Linked DNA regions of Homo sapiens: region 2 is linked to region 1. The links come from fine-mapping of genetic effects on gene expression. A gene starts in region 1. The other region holds a variant in brackets. All regions are shown on one strand. Distances are between the middles of the regions. Region 1 holds the start of MAU2 (MAU2 sister chromatid cohesion factor). Region 2 overlaps MAU2 (MAU2 sister chromatid cohesion factor).

Evidence for each region. PIP is the estimated chance that this variant, and not a neighbour inherited with it, causes the effect. A credible set is the group of variants that fine-mapping cannot tell apart.
Region 2: its variant is the best candidate, but not a certain one, in a credible set for the expression of MAU2 in whole blood (TOPMed, PIP 0.77).

Annotation. Positions count from the first base shown.
Region 1 is chr19:19,317,941-19,323,417 of GRCh38, reverse strand. It overlaps MAU2 (MAU2 sister chromatid cohesion factor), which reads right to left and starts at 2,589. Exons shown (of 19, transcript NM_015329.4): 1 at 2,283-2,589. The coding sequence starts at 2,558. It overlaps SUGP1 (SURP and G-patch domain containing 1), which reads left to right and starts at 2,909. Exons shown (of 14, transcript NM_172231.4): 1 at 2,909-2,955. The coding sequence starts at 2,922. RefSeq lists a silencer at 2,209-2,430 and enhancers at 1,802-2,773, 2,482-2,971, 2,992-3,041.
Region 2 is chr19:19,342,665-19,347,905 of GRCh38, reverse strand. MAU2 (MAU2 sister chromatid cohesion factor) reads right to left here. Exons shown (of 19, transcript NM_015329.4): 8 at 5,225-5,241; 9 at 5,040-5,130; 10 at 3,966-4,069; 11 at 2,980-3,057; 12 at 2,537-2,602; 13 at 540-626. Among named protein-coding and RNA genes, the nearest start is that of MAU2, 24 kb to the right of the region's middle. RefSeq lists silencers at 4,982-5,121, 5,162-5,241. The variant G/A (reference allele first, on the strand shown) is at 2,451.

The DNA of each region.
Region 1 (5,477 bases):
GTTCGAAACCAGCCTGACCAAATGGTGAAACTCTGTCTCTACTAAAAATACAAAAATTAGCCAGATGATGTGGTGCAAGCCTGTAATCCCAGCTACTCGGGAGGCTGAGGCAAGAGAATTGCTTGAACCCACGAGACGGAAGTTGCAGTGAGCCAAGACCGCGCCACTGCACTCCAGCCTGGTGACAAAGCGAGAATCTGTCTCAAAAAAAAAAGAAAAAAAATTATCTGGGGCTGGGCGCAGTGGCTCATGCCTGTAATCTCAGCACTTTGGGAGGCCGAGGGGAGTGGATCACAAGGTCAGGAGTTCAAGACCAGCCTGGCCAATACTGTGAACCCGTCTCTACTAAAAATACAAAAATTAGCTGGGTGTGGTGGCGCACACCTGTAGTCCCAGCTACTCGGGAGGCTGAGGCAGGAGAATCACTTGAACCCGGGAGACGGAGGTTGCAGTGGGCTGAGATCCTGCCATTGCGCTACAGCCCCGGCAACAAGAGCGAAACTCCGTCTCAAAATAAACAAATAAATAAAATAAAATAAAATAAAGTCTCCTTCCAACTTTTCAGTCTGTGAAACAAAGATTTGATCTATTCCTCAAGGCAAGTTGTTACTAGCTGAGGGTGGGCTTGGATTTACCTCAGATTAATGAGTTTTTAAAATCTGAGTTGATTCTTTTCAATAATTTTCTATTCAAGCAGGACAGAGCTGGGTAAAAGGTAAAAGGGAGGCAGGGGTCTGACAGGATCACAGCGCTGCTGTGAGAAAAAAACGACTCCACAGCCTGAAATTTTATTATTTTTTCCTTATTATCTTTTTTTTCTGAGACAGGGTTTCACTGTCACCAAGGCTGGAGTGAAGTGGCGTGATCACTGCTCACTGCAGCCACGACCTCCCGGGGCTTAGCTGATCCTCCCACCTCAGCCTCTGGAGTAGATGGGACTACAGGCCCGCGTCAGTACGCCCAGCTAGTTTTTGTATTTTTTGTAGAGACGGGATCTCACTGTGTTGCCCAGGCTGGTCTCAAACTCCTGGGGTCTAGTAATCTGTCTGCCTCCGCCTCCCAAAATACTGGGATTACAGACATAAGCCACTGAGCCTGGCCCTAGAAAGTTTATTAAAGGGGCCGGGCGCGGTGGCTCAAGCCTGTAATCCCAGCACTGTGGGAGGCCGAGGTGGGCAGATCATGAGGTCAGGAGATGGAGACCACCCTGGCTAACACGGTGAAACCCCATCTCTACTAAAAAATACAAAAAATTAGGCAGGCGTGGTGGCGGGCGCCTGTAGTCTCAGCTACTCAGGAGGCTGAGGCAGGAGAATGGCCTGAACCCGGGAGGCGGAACTTGCAGTGAGCCAAGATGGCACCACTGCACTCCAGCCTGGGTGACAGAGCAAGACTCCGTCTCAAAAAAAAAAAAAAAAAGAAAGTTTACTAAAGGGCAGAATGACAGCCACTCTCCCGCATTCTTTGAGGCACCAAGATGACACAAATCAAGTTGGGTCAGGGGAGGGACTCACTCTGACGGAAGAGGATGGACTGATGGATGGTAGAAGTCACCAGTGGATGGAGAAAAAGCAGGAGCTGCTTTTAGTTCCCCTAATACTGAAACTGAACAGCGGGGCCTGGAATCCAGAACCCCTGTTTCTCCTCCTCATAGGCCTCAAATGACCAACTCCAGACTCCGGGTCTCAGCTTCCCTCGTACGACACCAGGCATTATTGATGGGGGCACAAGACCCTCCAAAAACCACGATTACCAAACTTCTGTGTCCAAGGAGAATCATGCCCTTCCAGGTTCCTGAGAGACCAGACTTCAGATTCCCGGGAGAATGCCAGGGGTCTCGCCTTCGCCAACCCCTACCCCAAGTCACTTTAGGTGGAAGCGTTTGGGGCTGATGCTCCGGAAGCTGAACCAGGAGGAGCTAATAGCTTCAGGACCCTGTGATGTCCCCATCGCCACCAACAGGTGGGATCCTCCTGAAAACCAGACGATTTGCGGATCCTGTTGCTCCCAATAACAGGCAACTTTCAGAGTACGGTGACGGGGCTCCTGGAGCCCTGTCACCAGAAACGGGAAATAAGGCGTGGGGGGCGAGGCTTTCGTGTCCCTTGAGAGGCTGGTGGCTTTGGGGTCCGGCAGAGGCGGGTGGGGGTCCTGCGGCTTTGACGGAGGTCGCGCCCCCAGGTCGCCGAGGAGCGGCCCCCCACCCGCCGCGGTCGCGACCCGTCAGCCCAGATCTTGCAAGGAGCCCGCGACTCCTCCCTCGCGGCCCGGCCCGCGCTCACCGCCTTCTCCAGGTGGCTGCGCGCCTGCTCGCTGTTCTTGGTGTGGTGATAGAGAACGGAGCCCAGCTGCAGGTGTGTACGGGCCTCGATGCGCTGCGGCGGCTTGAAGGGGAACACGGCCTGCAGGCAGTGCACGCACAGGCGGATTTTGGGCGGGCTGGAAGTGCGGAAGTGCTCAGCGAAGCCCAGAAGCGCCAGGTACCACGAGTCGGCCGCCTCGGCCTGCGCAGCCTGGGCCGCCGCCGCCTGGGCCGCTGCCGCCGCCTGAGCCGCCATTTTGGCCTCCACAACAACAAGCCGCCGCCACAGGGAGGCGGAAGCAGGCGCGCGAGACGGGGCCGGGCTCTCCTCGCGGCTTCCGCGAGATCTGCCGCCCAAAGCATCCTGGAACATGTAGTTTGTATTTGGGATGACTGCCGCTCCGGGAAGGTGTAAAAGGGCGACGCCGTTTGGTTATCGTGACTGGGACTTAGGCATCGCTGATAGGCTGAGGCTTCCGTTTCTGGAGGTTAAAAAAAAAAAAACCCAGTCGTTCACGCAGTAATAGGGCGAGTCTGACCGAGGCGGACTACATCTCCCATCAGGCGATGCACACTATAACAGGGCCCCTTAAGGGGCGCCGGAGCATTGTGGGATTGGATGAGTCTCAAGATGGACAACCGGGATGTTGCAGGTAACAGCCCCCGCCTCCTCTCAGGCGGCCGCCTGGGTCCCTGGGGCTAGGTGTCTCCCCTGACTCCTCGGGTCCGTCCTGCTGCGACCCGTGGATCCCTCGCTTCAGCCCCGGGGCAGCCCACAGCGTCGGCTTCTGCACCTCTTGGTTTCTCGAGACCCCAGACCCAGGTTGCTGGCCGCCCCCGCTTGGTTTGCTGAGGACGCACGGATCTCCGTAGAGGCCGCCACCCGGCTCGGCCCTGCGTCCCGTTTCCGAAACAACCGCCTTCAGGGCTGCTCCAACCTCCGTTCCCCAATACGGCGACAACCTTGGGCTGTCCCTGCACCCCTCTTTTCGTCGCAGCTGGCCTCTGGCCTGTGTCCCGCTTTCTGGAAAAGCTGCTTTTCCGAAGTGCTTTGAGGCTCCCTTGACACACTTTCCCGCGTCTTTTGACCCTCACTTTGCTGCAAGCCTTGGCCTTTCTGCTTCCCCAGAATAGAATGCATTTACCCATCAGCAGATACTTAGGGCGTGCTCACTGTGTGCCAAGCAGTGTGCTGGGCGCTACGCATGCAGCGGTGACCGAAACAGGGCCCTGCCTTCCTGGAGGTTGCTTTCTACTGGGGTGTCAGTGCATTAATGAGAAAATATTTACAAAAACTTACGTATGATGTGAGGTTACGTATGATATGATCAGAGTGGAGGCTTCTGATATTGGGTAGTCAGGAAAGACCTTTTCTTTCTTTCTTTCTTTTTTTTTTTTTTTTTTTTTTTGAGACAGGGTCTCACTTTGTCGCCCAGGCTGTAGTGCAGTGGCTCACTGTGGCTCCCTGGGTTCAGGTGATCCTCCCACCTCAGCCTCCCTAGTAGCTGAGACCACAGATGCGCGCCACCACACAGCGAATTTGTGTGTTTTTTGTGTTGCCACGTTTCCCATGCAGGTCTGGAATTCCTAGGCTCAAGCGATCCTCCCATCTCAGCCTCTTAAAGTGCTGGGGTTACGTAAAGGTGTGAGCCACCACACCTGGCCCAGGGAAAGGCCTTTTCAAGCAGAGGACATTTGAGTTAAGACAATGAATGCCAGCTATGGGAATCCCTGGAGGGTGGAGCCTTCCACACAGAGGGGGGCCAGTAAATGCAGAGGCCCTGGTAGGATGGGCTTGTCCTTTTGAAGAATGTCAAGGATGAAGCAGAAGGGAGGGGAACCATCTGGCGGGGCCTTGAAAATGGCCTTTTAGAATTCTTTTTTTCTTTTTGTTGAAGCGGAGTTTCGCTCTGTCGCCCAGGCTGGAGTGCAGTGGCACGATGTCGGCTGACTGCAACCTCTACCTCCCGGGTTCAAGCCATTCTTCTGCCTCAGCCTCCTGAGTAGCTGGGATTACAGGCGCCGGCCACCGCACCTGGCCAGTGTTTTTGTGTATTTTTAGTAGAGACGGGGTATCACCATGTTGGCCAGGCTGGTCTCGATCTCCTGACCTCAAGTGATCTGCCTGCTTCAGCCTCCCAGGTGCTGGGATTACAGGTGTGAGTCACCATGCCCGGCTCAGACTTTTAAAATTTGGATTTTATTCTGAGTCCCATGGGGAACCTCTGAGGTGTCTTCCCTGTCTCCATACTATCACCCTAGTCTGAAGACATCATTGTCTGTTGCTTGGAGCCAGTGAGCCTCCCTGGTCTTGTTGCCTGTGGATTCTCTGGCCAGAATGATTACCTAGTAGCCAGGATGAAAATAAAACGACCCTGTGGATATTGGCTAGGTGTGGTGATCCATGCCTAAAATCTCAGCATTTTGGGAGGCTTAAATGGGAGGCTCCCTTGAGGACAGGAGTTCAAGATTAGCCTGGGGAACATAGCAAGAACCTGTCTCTACAAAAAATAAAAGAAAATAGCTAGGCCTGGTAGAGTGTGCCTGTAGTCCTAGCCACTCGGGTGGCTGAGGTGGGAGAATCTCTAGAGCCCAGGAGTTTGAGGATGCAGTGAGCTACGATCATGCAACTGCACTCCTGCCTGGGCAACTCAGCGAGACCCTGTCTCAAAAAAACAAAACAAAACAAAAAAAACGGCTGGGTGTGGTGGCTCACGCCTGTAATCCCAGCACTTTGGGAGGCTGAGGTGGGTGGATCACTTGAGGTCAGGAATTCGAGACCAGCCTGGCCAACATGGTGAAGCCCCATCTCTACTAAAAATATGAAAAAATTAGCCAGGCATGGCGGCAGATGCCTGTAGTCCCAGATACTCGGGAGGCTGAGGCAGGAGAATCGCTGGAACTCTGGAGGTGGAGATTGCAGTGAGCCAAGATCGCGCCATTGCACTCCAGCCTGGGGGAAAAGAGCAATACTTCATCTCAAAAAAAAAAAAAAAAAAAAAGAAGGCTGGGTTCGGTGGCTCACGCCTGTAATTCCAGCGCTTTGAGAGGCGTAAATTGGAGGTTCCCTTGAGGACGGGAGTTCGAGACCAGCCTGGACAACATGGCGAAATCCTAACTGTACTAAAAATATAAAAATTAGCCAGGTGTGGTGGCTCACGCCTGTAATCCCAGC
Region 2 (5,241 bases), 25 kb before region 1:
GCTGAGGGGGATCCCAGGGCTGAGTGGGGATCCCAGGGCTAAAAGGGACAGAAGAGGGAACCTAACTCTTATGCAAGCATTGGTTCAGAAGCGCCACGTGAGGGCAACCCTGGGCATCCCCACCCAACACTGCAGCCAGTGAGTGCCCCTGATCCTGCAGGGGCATCAGCACAACCTGGGGACAAGGTGCTCTGGCTGCTGCCCCTTAGGACTGAGCCTCAATGCCTGGCCGACATCCTAGAGCAGACAGCTTGGGCTATAAGACCTTGTCTGTGTGATTCATACAGCTTGGTTTGTTTGTGATAAAGAGAAGTGTTCTGTGGCTATGGGAATGTTTTTGTCCCAGACCTGGCCTCCCCCGGCCATAGCCCGATTCACCTCTGGGTCGCCTTGTGTGTCTGTGTCGGGTGCCGCCCATCCCTCAAAAGGTGAACACCCTGGGGTCTGCTGAGATGTGCTGGTGCCCAGGACAACCCCCTGGTTCCCCAAAAAGAAGAGAACAGAGAGAAAGGATACCGAACATGAAGCATGTCACCTACTACCTCTTGGTGTCTATTTCCTTCCCGTATATACACACTCGCCAGGTTGGTGACGATGAAGGCCCACAGCTCCTGGTGGTTGGTGAGCTGGAATGGGAGGCGGGGACATTAGGGGGCTGGGTCGGGTGCTGTGACCCATGTGGCAGTGTCAGAGCACCCACAATCTCCACGGAGACTACTTTGGAAAAGACTTGTTCTTTTCATTTCAAACACACTTGTTTTGCCTCCTAAGCTCAAGGATAACACAGCTATTACTTCTTCTCATTATAAAACCATCATCTGCGTTACGGGGCAGTTAGAGAACACAGAAGAGGAAAACCAGCCACCCCAATCCTACCCTCAGAACATGTCGGGTTTTGGTCCATTTTCCACTGTCTCTCAGGACTGAGACCTGGTGGACCCTTCCTCCAGGCCACAGCCAGCAACCTGTGGGACCCAGGTGTCCACTGCCATCAAGGCATATGCTGGTCCTAGGCGGGGGTCACTCTTCATAGGGGGAAGTGGGGAAGAGGGGAGCTGTTGTCCCACAGGGGGCCAGCACAGGCCCCGCTCCAGGTAGGTGATGCTGTGTCAGAGACCAGAAATGCTGCTGATGACAGGTGGTGGATGGGCCATGGTCCCTGGCTCTTCTTGGCAAATGAGATCGTTCGTCAAGAGAGGGTCCAATCTATGTAGCTCAAGCCCTGCTCAGACCCTGGTTCCCAGTGGGGCTGGGCAAGAGGTGGAGTGAGCCCAGGAAGCACAGACCCCACCTGCACAGATCCCCTCCTGGCACACACCCAGGAGGCCCAGAGGATCTTCCGAATCAAGCACAGATGCTCTGAGACGTAGCAAGGTGGGAGATGTTTGTTTCAGGGCCACAGGAGGCGTGTGTGTTTGGGGTTAGGGGTGTTGGGGTTGCATCCTGGCTCCATCACTCCTGGGTGGGCCATGAAAAAGAGGCTCTCTTTTGGCCTCGGGGTGAGGACTCCTTAGGGTACATGGCCTTGGGAACTTTGACGCGGAACCAAACCAGCAATAGCAACCACTTGTGGGGAGTGAGACGGAGACGGAGATGGCAGGATGGCAGGGCCACGAGGAGGGTCCTGGCCCTGCTGCAGTCAGAGTGAGCCAGGGTCCTGGGAGCGAGGTGAGGAGGCAGAGGAGTGGGTGCTGAGTCAGCCCTTCCCTCCCAAGCATGCTGTCTGCATGTCAGGGCTCCTGTGCATCTCTGAGGCCAGTGGCGGGGGTGGCAGCACCCACAGGCCTGCGGGGTGCCGTGGAATGGGAACCCTGTCCAACAGTCAGGGCGCACACAGGACTCCCTGGTGACCTTGCCCGAGTGGCAGACAGAGCAGCCTCTGCTCCCTGACACCTCTCCTCAGGGCCCTTCCTGGCACCACCAGGAAAAAGGTGTCCACAGCCTCCATTTCCTGTGAGGAGGTTGAGGCTGAGGTGGGGACACAATGGTCCAGCCCTGGGCTGGGGCGCTCCGTGAGGATGTGGCACCAGCCTTCTTCCAGGGCCTGGCGGGGCCCCCGTCTAAGGCCAGGAGCCTGGGGTGCTGCTTCACCCTCTCCGGCCCAGCAGGACCAAGAGTCCTCCTCTGTCCAAAGAGCACCTGGGAGATGGCCCAGCTCCACCACTCCCCATGGGAGCCCTGAACCCAGGATGGCTCTGAGTTGTCAGCTGACACTTGAGCCAATCCAGCCTTGGGGGTGGGTGCCGCAAAAGTTCCCACTCAGGCATGAAAGTGGTGTCCCCGGACGCGTCGCACCTCTCCCTCACGTCTGCCCTTGGGTCAGCTCAGGAAGCCCCTGGCCCCATAGCTGTCCCTTATCCAGATAAACAGCGCGTCACTGCCAAGGCTGGCATGGGCTGACTACTGTGCATTGCCTCTGGGGCTGCGGCTTTGCATAGCTGACCTAGCGC[G/A]ACTGCTGTCCTCATCACAGACCACGCCCGACTCCTTACTCAGAAGTGTGGCCCGCCCCGAGCAGCAAGGAGGGCCGGCACCTTACCCGCAGGGCCGTGGTGAACTGGGCTTCCGCGTTGTCCATGCAGTTGACAGAGACACAGTACAGGCCCTGGAAGAAGGTGGTGTTGTCATCAGGGCCGGCCCCTGGGGAGGGGGCTCAGATCAGAGACACGTGGTGTGCCCGGGGCCTGCACGGCTGCCCTGGAGGAGTATGACAATGGCTCTACCGAGCCAGCTGCAAGGCAGGTAATATGCTCACTGTCCCCACCTTTCAGACCCAAGCCAATGTGGGGTGGGACAAGATGCTCACTGGGAGCATTCCGGATCGTGCCTGGGAAGGTTATATGATTACCTATGGGAACATTCCGGATTCTGATTAGGGTGCTGTCAGGGGGTCCTTCACTGGGAATGTTCTGGATCTGGTTAGGTACTTACTTACTGAGAACATTCTGGATTCTCCCGGGGTGTTGTCACAGGGTTACTCACCAGCAATGTGTGCAGCTGTGCTGCATGGTTGGAGAAGAGCCGGGGGGACTGCTGGCACAGCTGGCAGACCTGGGAGATCTGCCGGGAGAGAGTGTACTGCCATCACAGGACTGCAACCTGGGACCTGGCGTCTGAGCAGCAATGGAGAGACCCCATAGCTGGTGGGTGAGCCCATGTCCTGTCTGACCAAACTGGGGTACAAAGCCCCAGCAGACACGTCCACCATGAGGGCAAAGGGCAGCCCAGATCCCATCGTGGACAGGGACCCTTGTCTGTTACTCGTCTCTTCCACTCTGTCCAACAGGTGTCTGGGTTGTAAAGGACCTCCAGCCTACTGAGGGCCCCCATGCCCTCTCAGGAGGGTGGGTACTGGGGGTAGAGTGTTCCTAATGGCAGGGTGGGGTATAACAATCACTGTCAAAGGACCCCCCAAATCCCCAGAGACCATGTGCGCTATCCCCTTGGTGTGCAAGCTTTTGGGCCATGGCCCATTAGTTTTTTGGGTTTTTTTTTTTGAGATGGAGTCTCACTCTGTTGCCCAGGTTGGAGTGCAGTAGTGCGATCTCGGCTCACTGCAACCTCTGCCTCCTGGGTTCAGGCTATTCTCCTGCCTCAGCCTCTCAAGTAACTGGGATTACAGGTGTCTGCCACCACACCTGGCTAATTTTTATATTTTTAGTAGAGGCGGGGTTTCGCCATGTTGGCCAGGCTGGTCTCAAACTCCTGGCCTCAAGTGATCCACCCGCCTCGGCCTCCCAAACTGCTGGGATGACAGGCGTGAGCCACTGCGCCCGGCCTCCACTGGTTTTTGTATGAGATTCTCTGATCAGTGGTGCCCATGCAGGGCTGTAAAACGCTGGCCGACAGCGAGACAGCAGGATGGGCTGGCCTGCCAGTATGCACTTGGCGAATTCAGTCTCTTGTCTGACACTGCTGAGACCCAACAAACTCCTGGGCCTTCCCGCCCCTCCTGCTTCCAGCCTTACCTCCTGCAGCGCCGTGGCCTTGTGACCCGTGACAAGGCGGCACATGATGATGTGCTCCAGCAGGATCACTTGGAAGGATGACAGGATGGGGCTGCAGTCCAGCACTATGGGTGAGAGTCAGGGGTAAGCATGCAGGGGAGGCCAGAGGAGGCGCCACCCCCAGCCCACCGTGCCCCCACCTCGTTCCTGTCTCCTGCCACACTGGCTAGGCACCCACCCCGTCATCTCCCCTAGTCCCCACTGCACCCTCTGAGTGAAGGAGTGTGTCTTGCTGTCCAGGTGGGGAGACGGAGCTGGAGCCAGAGGTTGGTTCCCACAGTGCTCCAAGAAGGGTTGGCTCTCACCCTCACCCTCACCCTACGTGCTCAAGAGCTTGTGGACATGGCAGGTTCTAGAAATGTAGAAATGTGGAAACCACCCTGGATCATGACACCATGCAGCAGAGCCTCAGGCAGTCGGGTAGGGGGACCTGGGCTGGGCCCCACCTCCCAACAGCCCCAAGCAACCATCCTCATATGGGAATAAGAGAAGCACAGGGCCTATCCGGCTTTGGGCTGCCTTGGCTCTGATGCCTTCTCCCCCAGCAGCACTCACGAGGGAGCAAACAGACCGACTAATGGGCACACTATACCAGCCAGGGACGTCTGCTCTGGGTTTGTGCTAGTCAAAGGTCCCTGGATGGATTAGACACTTGAGCATCTGGAAAGAACTCACGACCTCCAAAGGACATGCTGGTGGTCAGTGAGGGCTGAGTTCTGATCCTGGCCTCATCCCGAGTGTCCCTGTCACAACACTGATAATAATTGGGAAAAGCAGCTACCACCTGTTTCAACTGAGCATGACTGGGCACAAGGGACCTGACCAGTCAGGGAGGTACCCCCGACCCCAGGCCTGTCTGCTCTGCTCTGACGTTGGACACCAGCATTTATCAACTAGGGGTGACGAGACCCACCAGGCAGGGTGGCTGGGCGCTGCGGTCACACAGGGTCACTGGGCCCTGGTACAGCTAGCGTCTGGCCAGGCCGTCCGCCAGGGGTCGCTGTGGCCATGTGGCCAGCCGAGCACCTGACTTACTCTTGAGCTTCTCCAGCTGCATGAGGGCCTTGTCCGTGTACTTCTGCGCCTTCTCCAGGTAGCCGGCCTGCATGGAGTGCATCACAGTCACCTAGCGACAAGACCAGACAGCAGGGGTTACCAGGGCCCTCTCCCTCTCCCTGCCCCCGCCCCCAGCCCTGGCCCGGGCCCTGGTGGGGACGCACCAGGTAGACAAGCACAC